Regions from separate parts of the Homo sapiens genome. Here region 2 is linked to region 1. A link means that fine-mapping ties the variant in region 1 to the expression of a gene that starts in the linked region. Tissue or cell type: monocytes after R848. Region 1 holds a variant in brackets; the other region holds the start of a gene. All regions are shown on one strand. Distances are from middle to middle.

Region 1 (8,103 bases):
TAGAAAAAGGTAACAGCCACTGAGAGGTATTGAAGTATCTATAACACATTTTATTGACTGTATTATAGTTTTCTAACTTGAAAGGTTAAAATAACAACAATTAAAAATATTAAAACTTCTGTATTAATTAAATGTATTACCAATGCCTTGGGTCATTTTATAGGGCTGACCGAGGGAGTAGTCTAGCTGAAAATGAAAGCAAAGCAGCTGTTATCCCCATCCGGGAAAGCTGAACATGCTAATGCAGTTGCTCTTGTCTCTGCTTCCTGCAGAGGGATTTGTTTAGAGGCCACACCAGCTGAGTCTGCACTGGGAGTTGCTTATGGAGAAGTGAACATTCCAGCTAATGGGCACAGAGACCGTGTAGCAATCTTCTGGCTGGGTGCGGTAGCTCACGCCTGTAATCCTAGCACTTTGGGAGGCTGAGGCGGGTGGATCACCTGAGGTCAGGAGTTCGAGACAAGCCTGGCCAACATGGGAAAACCCTGTCTCTACTAAAAAATACAAAAATTAGCTGGGTGTGGTGACACAGCCTGTAATCCCAGCTACACGGGAAGCTGAGGCTGGAGAATCACTTGAACCTGGGAGGTGGAGGTTGCAGTGAGCCGAGATGGCGCCACTGCACTCCAGCCTGAGGGACAGAGTGAGACTCCGTCTCAAAAAAAAGAAAGAAATCTTCCTTGTTGACAAATCTCAAATTTCCTTTTCTTATGCATGCAGAGGTCTTGAAACATTGAGAAGCGGTTTCTGAGGGCCTACAGGCTTATCAGCCCAACTAATGTATTCACCAAAGGCAGGCAAGAGAAATGGGTTGTAAAAGCAAATTCCATTTGTTTTCCCTCTCTGGTCCTTGGTTTGCGCTTTTTCCAGTTTGCCTGGAGAAGCCAGAATCTATTAGCCAAGTGTGATTCCTCATCTTTTGTCACCTTTTCCTGTGCTCTCCACCCTCTGGCTTTGCATATGGATTTCCAGGGCCTTCAGAGACACTGCTGAACAGAGTAAACAAGTGTTTCCCAGAACCAAGAGTCCTGGTGTCACCTGGCCTATAGAGAGTGCACATACAGTCTTTTCATTATAGTGTCTTCTGCCTGGCACTCAGTTGGGAAACCTGAGTGGCTCCTGAAGACAGGCCCGACATATCACACTGTCATCATGCTAAAGAAGTGAACCACTGCCTACCTTTTGACTTTCAGAGCTAAAGAAATCTGCCTGCATGATTAGATGTCAGCTTCACTGCCCACTTATAACCCTGAAGTTCACAAGCTCAGTTTCTTTTCAGCAAATGGGCACCTCAAATGTGAATCTTGGGCAGATTCAACTAGAATGAAGAGAGCAAGGCGCTGTGCTTATGCCGTCATTATGCCTTATTTTAAGATTTTCAAAGATGGATTATCAAGCAGGATGAAGCAGATCAACAAGTTTCCCTTTTGAGAAGTTGGAAGATTTATTTTTAGTCATTCTTTCTGTCTTGCCAAAACTGGTCCGACGCTTCCAAGGATCTGAAGTGCTGCATGGTGCTGCCCCCAACTGGTTCTTTTTGGTGCTTATATTATTACCACATCAGAAAATATATGACATTTAAATTTTTTTCGAAGCGCTTTCACATATTTTATTTTATTATTATTTTTTTGAGACAGAGTCTCACCCTGTTGCCCAGGCTGGAGTGCAGTGATATGATCTCTGCCCACCGCAACCTCTGCCTCCAAGGTTCAAGTGATTCTCGTGCCTCAGCCTCCCAAGTAGCTGGGATCACAGTCGTCTGCCACCATGCCCTGCTTATTTTTGTATCTTTAGTAGAGATGGGGTTTCACCATGTTGGCCAGACTGGTCTCGAACTCCTAGCCTCAGGGGATCCACCTGCCTTGGCCTCCCAAAGTGCTAGGAATACAGGTGTGAGCCATCTCGCCTGGCCAACTTTTACATATTTTTTTTTCAAGACAGGGTCTCACTCTGTTGCCTAGGCTGGAGTGCAGTGGCTCAATCTCACTTCACTGCAGCCTCCGCCTCCCGGGTTCAAGTGATTCTCCTGCCTCAGCCTCCCGAGTAGCTGGGATTACAGGCACCCACCACCATGCCCGGCTAATTTTTGTATTTTTAGTAGAGATGGGGTTTCACTATGTTGGCCAGGCTAGTCTTGAACTCCTGACCTTAGGTGATCTGCCCGCCTTGGCCTCCCAAAGTGCTGAGATTACAGGCGTGAGCCACGGCGCCTGGCCAACTTTCACATATTTTATTAGATTCTCATAACAACACTGCAAATTAGGTGAATCAGGGATTATCATACCTACTTATAGTTGAGAAAAGTGAAAGATGGATAGCCTTATTAGTTGATTTGTCCAAGTTAAATGGCTATTAGGAGGCTGAATTGGGCTAGAATTCAGATATTTCTCCTCTTATCCCATTAAGTTCCCTAGTCCTTTGTAAATGCAATGGTACCCAAAAATATGTATTAAGATATAAATTTTAGGCTTAGAGGAATTTCCCTCTTTTTCTCCCTTGGGAGGAGGAGGGAGATAATACATCATATAAGGTTTGAGTAAATTCATTTTTGAGCTCCTGTGCTGCATGAGGCTCTCTTACTCAGATGCTGTGGTCTCTAAGTCTCCAGTGCAACGTAGTGGTAAAGAGTATGGACTCTGGAGCCAGACTGCAGAGTCTGCCAGTCTCTGCCACTTAATAACTGGATAACTTTAAGCAAGTTGCTTAATTTCTAAATGCCTTCTCTAAAATGAGTAATAGTATGTAGTCATTTTGTAGTCCATAGCACGATGATTGGATTTTCATGTGCATGTGTGAGGTGTACTACCCTCAAACCTTATTAATGTCTGCACGTTGTCTGACATGAAAAAAAAAAGGAAAAAAAGTACCAGTGTACCTACCTTATAGGGTTATTGTGCAGATTAAATGAGATAATATATGCAAAACTCTCAGAACAGTGCCTGAAACAATTTAGATACTATATAAATAACAGCTGCTATTATTATTTATAAATACATATACTTACTCACTTTTTTTTGAGACTGGGTCTCTCTCTGTTGCCTAGGCTGGAATCTAGTGGCACAATCATGGCTCACTACAGCCTTGACCTCCTGAGGTTCAAGTGATCATCCCAACCTCAACCTGTGAGTAGCTGTGACTATAGGCACACACCACCACACCCAGCTAATTTTTTTTTTTTTTTGAGATGGAGTCTCGCTCTGTTGCCCAGGCTGGAGTGCAGTGGTACAGTCTCGGCTCACTGCAAGCTCCGCCTCCTGGGTTCATGCCATTCTCCTGCCTCAACTTCCCGAGTAGCTGGGACTACAGGCGCCTGCAACCACGCCCGGCTAATTTTTTGTATTTTTAGTAGAGACGGGGATTCAGCATGTTAGCTAGGACGGTCTCGATCTCCTGACCTCGTGATCTGCCCACCTTGGCCTCCCAAAGTGCTGGGATTACAGGTGTGAGCCATTGTGCCCAGGCTTTTTTTTTTTTTTTTTTTTTTTTT[A/TA]GACGGAGTTTCACTCCGTCACTTGCCCAGGCTGGAGTACAATGGTGCAATCTCGGCTTACTGCAACCTCCATCTCCCGTGTTCAAGCGATTCTCCTGCCTCATCCTCTCGAGTACTGGGATTACACGCATGCGCCACCATGCCTGGCTAATTTTGTATTTTTAGTAGAGACAGGGTTTCTCCATGTTGGTCAGGCTGGTCTCGAACTCCCGACCTCAGGTAATCCACCTGCCTTGGCCTCCCAAAGTGCTGGGATTACAGGTGTTAGCTACTATGATCCCACCCCTGGGAGCTACCGTGCCTGGCCAATTTTTGTATTTTTTGTAGGGACGGGATTTTGCCACTTTCCCCAGGCTGGTCTCAAACTCCTGACCTCAAGTGATCCTCCCACCTTGGCCTCCTACCGTGCCCAGCCTTATTCACTTTTTTTTCTTTTTTTTTTTTTTTACTAAAAAAGCAAAGCTGCCCTTCATGGGTATTTAGGAATGATGAACAGCAAGACTATCTTCAAATAGTTTCTCCATAACCTTATCTGCTACTCTTTCCTCTGTTCACTTCAGTCTTACTCGTCTTAACCACTTTACTGAAACTGCTCTGTCCAAGGTTGCCAATGATTTCCTGGTTGCAAATTCAGTGGATACCTTTCAAGCTCGTCTTCCTCATTCATGGCTTTTGATACTGTCAGTCATTTCCTTTGTAGAATGCTTTCCTTCTGACATGTAGAATGTCATTGTCCTTCTGAACATACATACATACATACATACATTTATTTATTTATTTATTTATTTATTTATTTATTTATTTATTTATGAGATGGAGTTTAGCTCTTGTTGCCCAGGCTGGAGTGCAATGGCACGATCTCAGCTCACTACTACCTCTGCCTCCCGGGTTCAAGTGATTCTCCTGCCTTAGCCTCTTGAGTAGCTGGGATTACAGACGCCTGCTACCATGCTCAGCTAATTTTTTTGTATTTTTAACAGAGACAGAGTTTCACCATCTTGGCCAGGCTGGTCTTGAACTCCTGATGTCAGGTGATCCACCCGCCTCGGCCTCCCAAAGTGCTAGGATTACAGGCATGAGCCATTGCGCCCGGCCGTCCTTCTGAACATTTAGAATGTTCTCCTATTGACATTCTTGCCTGTTCCTTGGGATTCTGTTGATTTCCCATCTTACATGTTAAACCCTGGGCATGCATGACCTTGGAATGCATGACTGCTTCAGCTCAATGTTTTTGCCTCCTAAATATTGTCTTTCACTTAGACTTTGTTCTTAAGCTTCAAACTGACTCTATTTAGATCATTTCCACCTTGGTTGTCCAATAAGCACCTGTACCTTTAATAATTTAACTTCTCCCAGCTGAACTCACTATCTTTTTTTTTTTTTTTTTTAAGACAGGGTCTCGCTCTGTCTATCACCCAGGCTGGAGTGCATTGGCATGATCTTAGCTCACTGCAGCCTCAACCTCCCAGGCTCAGGCGATCTTCCCATGTAGCTAGGACTACATGTGTGCACCATCACGTCCAGCTAATTCTGTTTATTTTTGTAGAGACTAAGTCTCTCACTATGCTGTTCAGGCCGGTCTGAACTCCTGAGCTCAAGCGATCCTCTACCTCTCAAAGTTCTAGGATTACAGGCATGAGTCACCACACCTGGCCTGAACTCACTCTCTTTTAACATTGCCTCTTCTTCTAAAAACCTACTCCTCTCCTTGCTCTCTGGGTATTTAAAAATGACATCCAGGGACCAATAGCCTATTGCTCTCATTCTCTAATCCAGGCAATTATCAAGTTTTTTTTTTTTAATTCTGCCATCTAAATACATTTTGAATCTTGCCTTGTTCCAATGCCTCCACTATTGCCATGATTCAGATGCCCTGCTCTCACCAGGATTATTGCAGTAATCTCCTATTTCCCTTTCTCTGTATTTTTCACTCTAATCCATCTATCATACCATGGCTAAAATAATATTTTCTTTAAAAAGCAAATATAACCATGTGGCTCTCCTGCTTAAAATGCTTCTTTTGTTTCCTATAGACAGGATAAAGTTCACATATCTTAGCAAAACATGTCAGCCTCACTTCCTGACTCATCTATAAATGCACTCTGGCCATATCGAAGTAAATTAAGTTCCTGAATGCATCATGCACTTAACCTGTAACTTTGCATATGCTGCTCCCTCTGTGTCTTTCGTGCTACTTTCCTGCTACTCCAGGTCATCCTTTCTGACTCCTTATTTCCTCTCTGCATTTCCTCTGACATGCCTCCACAGTTTAGCTTTATCCTTGTTGCTGCATGGTGTTGTCCTACCTGCACATAACTATATTTTAATATTTATTATATGATATTGTTTGACTATGTCCCTTAATAGATTGTGATCTCCTTAAAGGAAAGTGTCATTGTGTGCAGCACCTACCATAGTGCTTGGAGGCAGAATAAGCCCTCAGTAACTTAAAAAAAAAATACAGTCTCTCTCTTCCAGGTGTTTACTCTCTAATGGTTTCACCACTAGCCTAAATATTTCTGATAAATGGTAGCTGGGTTTTCCTTCTGTTTTGCAGTATATCAACTCCGGGAACCTGGAACAGTTGCTAGACAGTAACCTGCATTTGCCTTGGACTGTGAGGGTAAAACTGGCCTATGACATAGCAGTGGGCCTCAGCTACCTTCACTTCAAAGGCATTTTTCATCGGGACCTCACATCTAAGGTATGAAGGCTTTACTCTCACAACTCATTGAGAGATACCACCCTTCTCTTTTGCCAAGAAAGCTGTGTTAGATTTAACATTTAATCACAGAGGACATAATTCATTATATTTTATAGTTAGTCCTTAGAAAGCCTACATCTTTTCCTTCTGTTTTTGAGGCAGTGTCTCACTCTGTTGCCCAGGCTGGAGTGCTTCTGCCTCCTGGGTTCAACGACTCTCGTGCCTCAGTCTCCTGAGTAGCTGGGACTAGAAGTGTATATTACCACACTCAGCTAATTTTTAGTAGAGGCAGAATTTTGCCATATTGGCCAGGCTGGTCTTGAACTCCTGGCTGCAAACAATCCACCCGCCTTGGCCTCCCAAAGTGCTGGGATTACAGGCGTGAGTCACTGTGCCCCACCATAAGCCTATATTTTCTTATAGCAGGTTCCTTTCAGTGCTGAGTGAGCCAACATATATATATATATATATATATATATATATATATTTTTTTTTTTTTTTTTTTTTTTTTTTTTTGAGACGGTCTCACCTTGTCACTCAGGCTGGAGTACAGTGGCATGGTCTCGGCTCACTGCAGCCTCCACTCCATCGGCTCAAGCAATCCTCCTACCTCAGCCTCCCGAATAGCTGGGACCACAGGCGTACACCACCATGCCTGGCTGTATTTTGGTCTTGTTTTGTTTTTTTCCACTCTTATTGCCCAGGCTGGAGTTCAATGGAGTGATCTTGGCTCACTGCAACCTCCACCTCCTGGGTTCAAGCAATTATCCTGCCTCAGCCTCCTGAGTAGCTGGGATTACAGACGCCTGCCATCACCCCTCGCTAATTTTTTGTATTTTTAGTAGAGATGGGGTTTCACCATGTTGGCAGGCTGGTCTCAAACTCCTGACCTCAGGTGATCCACGTGCCTTGGCCTCCCAAAGTGTTGGGATTACAGGCATGAGCCACCATACCCAGCCTTTCTTTTGTATTTTTAACAGAGATGGGGTCTTGCCATGTTACCCAGACTGGTCTCAAACTTGTGAGCTCAAGCAGTCACCCACCTCAGCCTCCTAAGGTGCTGGGATTACAGGCATGCACTGTGCCCAGCCAACTCATACATCTTGAGAGCCTTCATGTTTAACTTCAATCTCCTGAATATGTGTTACAGGAGCAAATGACATGAGAAGGGTTAAGAAATTCTTGCCTTATAGGAATGACAGCAGTCAAGGCAGTATAGGGGCCTATCAGTTTTCTTTCCTGTGGCCCCAGGATGTAGTTCTTAGCTAAGAGCAGGAGTTCAGTGATTTTTAGTCACTTGAATGCAGGTTTTTAGGGCCATATGTACTGACCCATTTTCTGCCTGTGTGATTGAGTTTCTGCTGCCCTGCCAGTTCCTCTTTGGCATCAGCTGATCTCTGTAGCACTCTCTTGCTGTCCAAATTGCTGTGTGACCAGGTTAGAAAAGAGTCGCTTTCAGAGGAAGTTGGCCATGCCACAAAACAGACACCTCATAGCCAAATGGCCTAAGATACCATCATGACAAGGCTTATATAAATAGTACCGTTTGATTATTAATGGGGGAACTATAAGGCAATCTAACATATCTAATATGACTGCTGCCCAAGAACTGAATTAAAGTCTGCTAGGGAGGTGTATAAGAGTTTTGTACCTGCCTAAGAATAGCTGTCACTTCATTCCCCACCCTCAATACCTACATGTACACATATTCACATATGCATGCACATACTCCTACTCCTTCTGCCCCAGATGAAGGGGAGGGGAAGGGAGCCCATCTTAAGAAAAAGCTTGAAAGGGAACAAAAGCAGCAGTACTGAGTCAATAAAGCCTAAAGCAGTAAGTACCTGGATGCCTCACATAGAATGGTTTTGGTGTGTGGCAGAGTCATTTGTAGTCAGCTGCACTGTTCCTG
Region 2 (8,103 bases), 150 kb after region 1:
AACCCTGTCTCTACTAAAAATACAAAAATTAGCCAGGCATGGTGGCGGGCACCTGTAATCCCAGCTACTCAGGAGGCTGAGGCAGGAGAATTGCTTGAACTCAAGGGGTGGGGGTTGCAGTGAGCTGAGATTGCATCACTGCACTCCAGCCTGGGCAACAAGAGTGAAACTCTGTATCAAAAAAAAAAAAAAAAAAAAAACCAGAGTTGGGTAATAGGTCCAATCAATTCAAATCATGGTCTTCTAGCCAGGCATGGTAGCTCATATCTGTAATCCCAGCACTTTGGGAGGCCAAGATGGGAGGACTGCTTGAGCCCAGGAGTTTGAGACCAGCCTGGGCAATATAGGAAGACCTTGTCTCTACAAGTGTGGTGGCGAATGCCTGTGGTTCCAGCTACTTGGGAGGCTGAGGTGGTAGGATCGCTTGAGCCTAGGAAGCAGAGGTTTTAGTGAGCCAAGATTGTACCACTGCACTCCAGCCTGAATAACAGAGCCAGACACTGTCTGAAAAAAAAGAAAAAAAAAATCATGATCTTCCTTTCTAATTCCTAAATATTTCTCATTCCCACTTCATTCAGTGTTTATGATATACCCAAACAAAGTGTTATCAGGAAGCACAGGTGTCTATCTTCTACATTTTGAAATAGAAGCCAAAATAAATTTTATTAAATAAATGACTGGGTTGCATACAGTTTGCTTGTCAAATGATACCTAAATCCTCATCTCTGAGTCTCACTCTATCCTTCACCTTCATCTCATCATTTCATTCCATGCAAAGGGGTTGAGGATGTTTCACAAATGCAAATTTAAAGATTTATTTCTAAGGTTGGATCAAAATTTTCCTGACATCAAAAGAGTTGTATTAAGATGTGAGGTATTCTTCCTGGTTATTGATTTTTGGTATTTGTGTTTTCACCCTGGGGATTGCAATGCTGTAAAATAAGTATCTTTAGACTCCCACAGTCTCCTTGAAATATGTCAATTCTCTCATCAGAGAAGAGGGATCAAACAGAGAGAGGTAACACAGGCCCAGAGCCATTGCTAGCCCATATGGTCACTTGGTGAGAATGAGAAAGAGGCACCCAGATGCAACCTGGTTGGTGCAGGGATGGGCAAATGGAGTGCAGGCCAGATTTCAGCCCCTTTTTGCCCGATGTCTAGATATCTTTTCGTCCAATGCCTTCTACAAGCCTTTATTACCTCCTTCCCACACTGTTGGTTTATCTCCAAACTCATCTTTTGCCTCCAGACTTTATCTTTCTCCTGATTCATCCTACATATTTCTGTCTGGTTAATATTCCTAAAACACTGCCTTTTATCATATAACTGTCCTGCTCAAAATACCTTTATTAGCTTCCCTCCACCAACCTAAGAAAATGCAGATTCCTCAAGTTAGCATTTTACAATGCTTTTAAAAGCTTTTCACAATGTCTCCTGTCTCTCTTGCAGTCTTTTCCCACTATTTCTCACCACAAACTTATGGTCCAATTAATCTAGCATTCTTGTTATTCACAACCACATATTGCATATTCCCAAATGTCTTATTTGCTGTGTTATTACCATCTGTATTTATATATTTATGTGCTTATTTTTTATTTTTTATTTATGTTTTTGAGACACAGTCTCACTCTGTCTCCCAGGCTGGCAGTGGTATAATCTCGGCTCAGTGCAACTCCGCCTCCTAGGTTCAAGCAATTCTCCTGCCTCAGCCTCCCGAGTAGCTGGGATTACAGATGCCCACCATCATGCCCAGCTAATTTTTGTATTTTTGGTAGAGGTGGAGTTTCACCATGTTGACCAGGCTTGTCTCGAACTCCTGGCCTCAAGTGATCCACCCACCTCAGCCTCCCAAAGTGTTGGAATTACAGGTGTGAGCCACCACGCCCGCCTAACATGGAGCTTATAGTCTATTTTGGGAAACAGACATTAAGCAAATAAACACATAAATATAGGCTAGGCGCCATGGCTCACACTTGTAATCCCAGCACTTTGGGAGGCTGAAGCGGGCAGATCACTTGAAGCCGGAGTTTGAGACCAGCCTGGTCAATGTGGTAAAACCCCATCTCTACTAAAAATACAAAAATTAGCTGGGCATGGTGGCATACACGCCTGTAGACCCAGCTACTTGGGAGGCTGAGGCAAGAGAATCACTTGAACCCAGGAGGCGGAAGTTGCAGTGAGCCAAGATTGTGCCACTGCACTCCAACCTGGGTGTGACAGAGTGAGACTGCATCTCAAAAAAAAAAAAAAAAAAAAAAAAGACAGTAACTGATTAAATCAGAATAACATATTCATTGATTCAAAGTGCAAATATTTTCTGAACATCTTCTATGTGTAGGCATTTTGGCAGGTGGTAGAAATAGGCCCTTACATGGAAATGGTTCCTGCCCTTCCACAGCTCATAGTCTAGTTAGGGGGACAGGCATTAAAGGAATATTCGTTCTCCCAAAAAACTCTGATAAATTATAGGAAAGAAAATAGTGTGTGTTATGGAAGCCTGTAAATGTGGTACCAGATTCAAGGTGGAGTAGGGATTATGCTATTTTGCAGTAATCTATTTATAGTTATTTACAGATATAAATCCATTTACCAATATAAACAGATTTCTTTTTCTTTCTTTTTTTGTTTTTTTAGAGAGGGTCTTGCTCTGTTGCCTGGGCTAGAGTGCAGTGGCATGATCATAGCTTACTGTAACCTTGAACTCCTGGGCTCAATCAATCCTCCTACATCAGCCTTCAGGGTAGCTAGGACTACAGGGTGTAGGCCACTAATCCCTGCTATTTTTTATTTCTTGTGTAGAGATGGGGTCTCCAGTCTGCTCTGTTGCCCAGGCTGGTCTAGAACTCCTGGCCTCAAGGGATCCTCCACTTTGGCCTCCCAAAGCCTTGGGATTACAGGCATGCGCCACTGCATCTGGCCTAAACAGATACTTATTGAGTACCTACTACACTGAATAAGCAAACAATTTGAATTACTTCTAATTCCAGCCAGCCTGGGCAACATAGGGAGACCGCCCCTCTACAAAAATTTAGAATTAGCTGGGTGTGGTGCTGTGCATCTGTTGTCCTAGTTATTCTGGAGGCTGAGATGGAAGGATAGTTTGAGTCCAAGAGTTTGAGGTTGCAGTGATCACCCCACTGCACTCCGGGCTGGACATCAGAGTGAGATCCTGTCTCTAAAAAAACTTTTTTTAAAGTGAATTATTTCTAATTCTTACAACATTTATGTGTAGAAGCATTATTACTAGCTCCCTTTTGCAAATGATTTAATAGAATCATGAATAGCATCACACACAGCAAGTGTGATTCACACCCAATTCTGCCTGTGCTCTTTAATTCTGAGATTACAGCAAAACCAAACTGTGGCTCCAGCCTGTCTCCAATCATTTACTCTCTTCTTACTCTTATTTTATCCTACACTCTAAATCTCTCTTACTTTGAAGGGCAAACTCAACTATAGAAACTCTTTTAATACAGTTCTTGGAACGTTTTAAAGTTGTAGAGATTAGTTTGTCAGCAAATTCTGAAATAATCTGAGCTTTCTTGATCGAGCAAGAAACAGTAACTTACAATTGCGTGTTGTTTATGGAGTTAGTGATGAAGCTGCCATTCTTGAGCACCCACTATGTGCCAGGCAGAGGATAAATTATAGTGAAGGAAATAGACATGATTCTCACTCTCATGGAGTTGACAGTCAGACATTAAACAAATATATAAAAATACAACTATGTAAAGGTGTAGAAGACTGAGCCAAGTGAGGAAAACATGAAAGACCTAATTCAGATTGGAGGTAGGGGATCAGAGAATTCTACCAAAAAACACGCAAAAGTGTTTTGTATTCTAGGATGCAAGGTGCTAAACCCTCCAAAAGACCCCACCAGGATGCAACCCCCGTGGCGATAAGATCTTGATGCCCCATTGTCAAGGGGTGGTGCGACTTTGTCCCACTCTGGGGTGGGGTGACCGCCGGCTTTATCCTACATTGTTGTGGCGTGAGGTGAGTTTTCATCATCCGAACTTTCTGATGTTTTCCCCTAGTGTCTTCTTTCCCAGCGTCTTTCTGCCAGATCTTCCGCTCTGCTGTGACAACCTCCTGTCACATCAGTACCGTTGGAGCTGGATTGTTTTTTTCTCCTTGTACCCCGCGAGCCTATAACTTCACGGAGGCGGCTCCTTGGATGGCTTATGGCCCCGCCATTTCATTCAGTCACACAGTCCATTCCTGTCTGGCCGGCGGCAGGTGGGTTGGAGGTGCGCGGGCGGGCGGGCGGGCGTGCGAGAGCGTCCGGCGCTCCTCTCCCCTCCGCGGTCGCCGGATCCGCGAGAGCGCTCGGCTCGCGTTCTAGGCTGTTTGCGCCTGGAGCGCGCCGCGGGCCCGCGCTCGCTCCCGCCTGTCTTCGCGTCCGCGGCGGCCAGGACACCGCGCGCCGCCTCACGCTACCCTGCAGGCCGCCCGCGTCTGCCCTCGCGGCGCGCTCCCGGGCCCGGCCGCGGTTCCCCACTCGGGCCGGCTGGCTCGCGGGTTCTCTCGCCCCGCCCCCCTCGGCGCCACCGCTGGGCGCTTGCGCGGGGCGCGTGGCCGTGGCCAGGGTCTCCGCCGCAGCCCGAGCAGCCGCCGCCGCCTCAGTCAGTCAGTCAGTCCCCAGCAATGGCGGACGGAGGTGAGCGAGAGGAGCTGCTCTCGCCGTCACCGGTCTCTCCGGCTAAGCGGCAGTGTTCGTGGCCCAGCCCGCAGGCTCATCACCCTCGCGGTTCGCCTGGGGCAGCCGGCGGAGGGGCAGGGGGCGTCGGCAGCAGCTGCCTGGTCCTCGGGGCCCGCCCCCACCTGCAGCCGGATTCCTTACTGGACTGCGCCGCCAAGACGGTGGCGGAAAAGTGGGCATACGAACGGGTGGAGGAGCGCTTCGAGCGGATCCCGGAGCCCGTGCAGCGCCGCATCGTCTACTGGTCCTTCCCGCGGAATGAGCGGGAGATCTGCATGTACTCCAGCTTCCAGTACCGGGGCGGCCCCGGCGCCGGCGCTGCTGGCGGCGCCGCGGGGGCTTCGCCGGCCGAGGAGGGGCCGCAGCCACCCCCCGGGGCCGCCGCTCCGGCCGGCTCCGCCCCCGGGGGCGTCGCGGCTGGGGCATCCCCCGGGCTGGGCGCAGGGGCCGGCGCGGCCGGCTGCGGTGGCGAGGGGCTCCCGTTCCGCCGGGGCATCCGTCTGCTGGACAGCGGCTCCGTGGAGAACGTGCTGCAAGTCGGTATGTGCTCGTCCAGGCGTTCTCGGGTCCTCAGCCTCCTCTTCCGCGGGTGCCTCTTCTCGGCCCGAGCCCTGGGGCCGAGACCCCGGCCTTCTGCCCAACTCCTGTACCCCTGCCGAAGGACGAACAAGTCACAAAAACTTTTTTCAACCTTTCACTCAGGTCCACCACTGCTCTTTCCTCCACTGACCCTCTACCCCAATTTCTTTTTGTTTGAAGAGTGAATAGATCTCTCTTCTTCACTCTTTCTATTCCCCACACCAAGGCAAAGAGAATGGGGAGGTATGACTTTTTGGATGTAATAATTTCAGAAATGTGTTGTCCTAATTTAAGTTTGGAGAGGAGAGGATTGTTAGTAAATCTGGAACAAGCGGTTTTAGAGGGAGCGTTTGAGGGACAGACTGTCAGAGGCAATCTATAGCCCTAGCCGATTGAGTCTCGATGAAATTAACACTGGGAAAAAAGCCCCAACAAAATACTGCATGTTTCAGACAGTTTTAATTGTCTGCGTTAGGATTTTTCCCCTGGACCGGTGATGCTTGGGAATCTAGGCTGCGGACTAACAATAACCGAAGATGGAAATGTGACAGCTTCTCCTCCACACCCCCACCCAAGGAAAAAAAAAAAAAAAGCCATACAATCTGGAGTGGGGGTGGGGTCTCTCTTCCTTGTCAGACTGGGGTAAATCAAAAGCTGGTCACGCTGGGTTTTTCAAAAGCTTCTCATTTAACAAGTCCTATTTGCTTTTATCTTTTTGTTATGGAAAAATATATTATACAAATGATTTCTTCCTTTACTCCTCCGGAGCTTCTAGTCAGTTTGTTAATCTTATTAAATATATAAATACAGTGCTTCTGATTTGTGGAATGGTTAAGGAGAAGGATAAAAAAATGATTAACATTGACTTTGCTATGTGGAAAATTAAAACACGAATTTTTTTCTATTTGGATTATTATGGCATTCTGGAAGTACATATCTTTATGCGTTTTATTGTACACTATATGCTCGTATTAATTGAAGAAAATACTGATTTTTGAAAGGAGTTGAAGGGAGGTTGTTTTTAGAATTAAACAAGCACAGAAAGACACAAACCCCAGACATCTAGCTCTCCAGGTAAAACCTGGAGAAAACATTTGAAAAATGTTTTTCTTTGAATCGTGCTGTTTCATATAAAGTAATCTGCTTCTGGTTATTGAGAATCATTGATTCCTGTGTTTCTAACCAAAACAACAGCATACCACAACTTGTTTTGCAAATGTGAAATGTAAATTTATCCTGTGCCAGAATATAGTGACAGTGGCTTGAGCAAGTTTTGTTTATTTGAAAGAGGTTAGTCCTTTATTTGTGTATATTTTTGAAAGAGTGACTTGAATAAATATGTAATTAAGGTGTACAGCTTTAATACTGAAACACTGAAAACATGAAAATAAATACAATCATTTTCCTATTAGTCTGTAAATTTTAATTTTTCTGAGTTTCGATCATTTATTTAACTTTTAAGATTCTTGTTTCAAATATTTTAAATGGAAAAGGATCAATTTAAGTGGTCATTTTATAGTAAGAGATGGATGAGGAAGAATTTTCAAACTTGAGGGAACAAATAAAAGAGAGGAAGAGTTTTAAAGAGGTGTCTATTTTTAAAGTAACTAAAGTGTCACTTTCCAAATGAAATAGGATATTTTGGGTAATCTAGATCATGTTTAAATCAGATATTTCCCCTTTATAATATGAAAGTTAATGTGGTTCTGGAGTTATAGGCTCTCTTATGGTAGTTTCAGAAGACACATATAAACAAACATGTTTTCTGATTGACTTGAGAAAAGACACATATAAACAAACATGTTTTCTGATTGACTTTGGATTTCAAAGACGAAGACCGGTGAATAAATTTATCACTTTAAGTTTATGCTACTTGAGAACCACGAGCTGTGTAATTTTTATTATTCTGACCTTAATTTAGGTTAATAAGTATAGGAGAGAAGGATAGCCTGTTCTGCATCTTTTTGAGTTCTGTATTTTGGTATGAACCACCTTTAATAGAGACTCATCCCCCATCTCCTAAACTTAAAGTTATAAGTAAATGACTTAATCTAGAGAGTAGGCTTTCTAAAAGTATTGCCAAGAGATGAGTAAGGAAGTGATTCGTATATACCAAGATAGTAATCGTGTTTTTCAGTTTATAACTGCACTTCAAACTCAATTAATTACTAAGTGATGCTAATTAAGAATTCTACATATTTCCTTACTGTTTCTAAACGATAGAACCTCAGATTTGGGAAGTTACTGAAGGCCGATGCTTTAGGAAGAACAGAAAGTTGGGGTATTTCTGTGACAACATCTTTTTAAGAAAAAGAGTCATAAGGGAATTTAATGAAAAAGGGAATTTAAATGAAAAAAGAAAGCACAAACAAAAAAGCCTTCAAGGCAAATAAATTAAAAACAAACAAAAACTTGTGGAAAGAGTAGGTAGATTAAATTCTGTAATTTCTAATTACTTTCCACACAAAATCTGGTAATGGGAAGTCATGAATTCTGGTTAAAAATTGGATACTTCAGATTTTAAATCAAAACTAAAACTTTTCCAGCTATGCTCAAAGGATACATTTCTTTTATGTAAGTACTGCATCAGAAGTAGTATTCCTTTTAAAAGGGGAAAATTGCAAATTAGTCTCTTCAGGGATGTCTGTAAGTTTAAAGCTATGTCAATAGACTTACAGTCTGATCTCAGTATTGTAAAGGTTAGAGTATGAACTCTATTGAAAACATATGAATGTTTTCAGCATCTGCATTTTTAACTTGTTTCAGAAGCCCATGGATATAGTAGTAGTATAAACTTTGGGAAAATACTTATTCAGGAGTCT

The links. PIP is the estimated chance that this variant, and not a neighbour inherited with it, causes the effect.
Region 2: it holds the start of ZSWIM5, and the variant in region 1 is fine-mapped to the expression of ZSWIM5 in monocytes after R848 (Quach 2016, PIP 0.95).

What each region holds. Positions count from the first base shown.
Region 1 is chr1:45,353,391-45,361,493 of GRCh38, reverse strand. TESK2 (testis associated actin remodelling kinase 2) reads left to right here. Exons shown (of 11, transcript NM_007170.3): 5 at 6,045-6,191. It also overlaps the pseudogene LOC124904849. Among named protein-coding and RNA genes, the nearest start is that of TOE1, 17 kb to the right of the region's middle. RefSeq lists enhancers at 530-1,029, 1,160-1,239, 1,500-1,599. The variant A/TA (reference allele first, on the strand shown) is at 3,488.
Region 2 is chr1:45,202,895-45,210,997 of GRCh38, reverse strand. It overlaps ZSWIM5 (zinc finger SWIM-type containing 5), which reads left to right and starts at 4,393. Exons shown (of 14, transcript NM_020883.2): 1 at 4,393-5,242. The coding sequence starts at 4,648. RefSeq lists silencers at 4,167-4,586, 4,787-4,946, 6,915-7,115 and enhancers at 4,015-4,914, 4,915-5,815.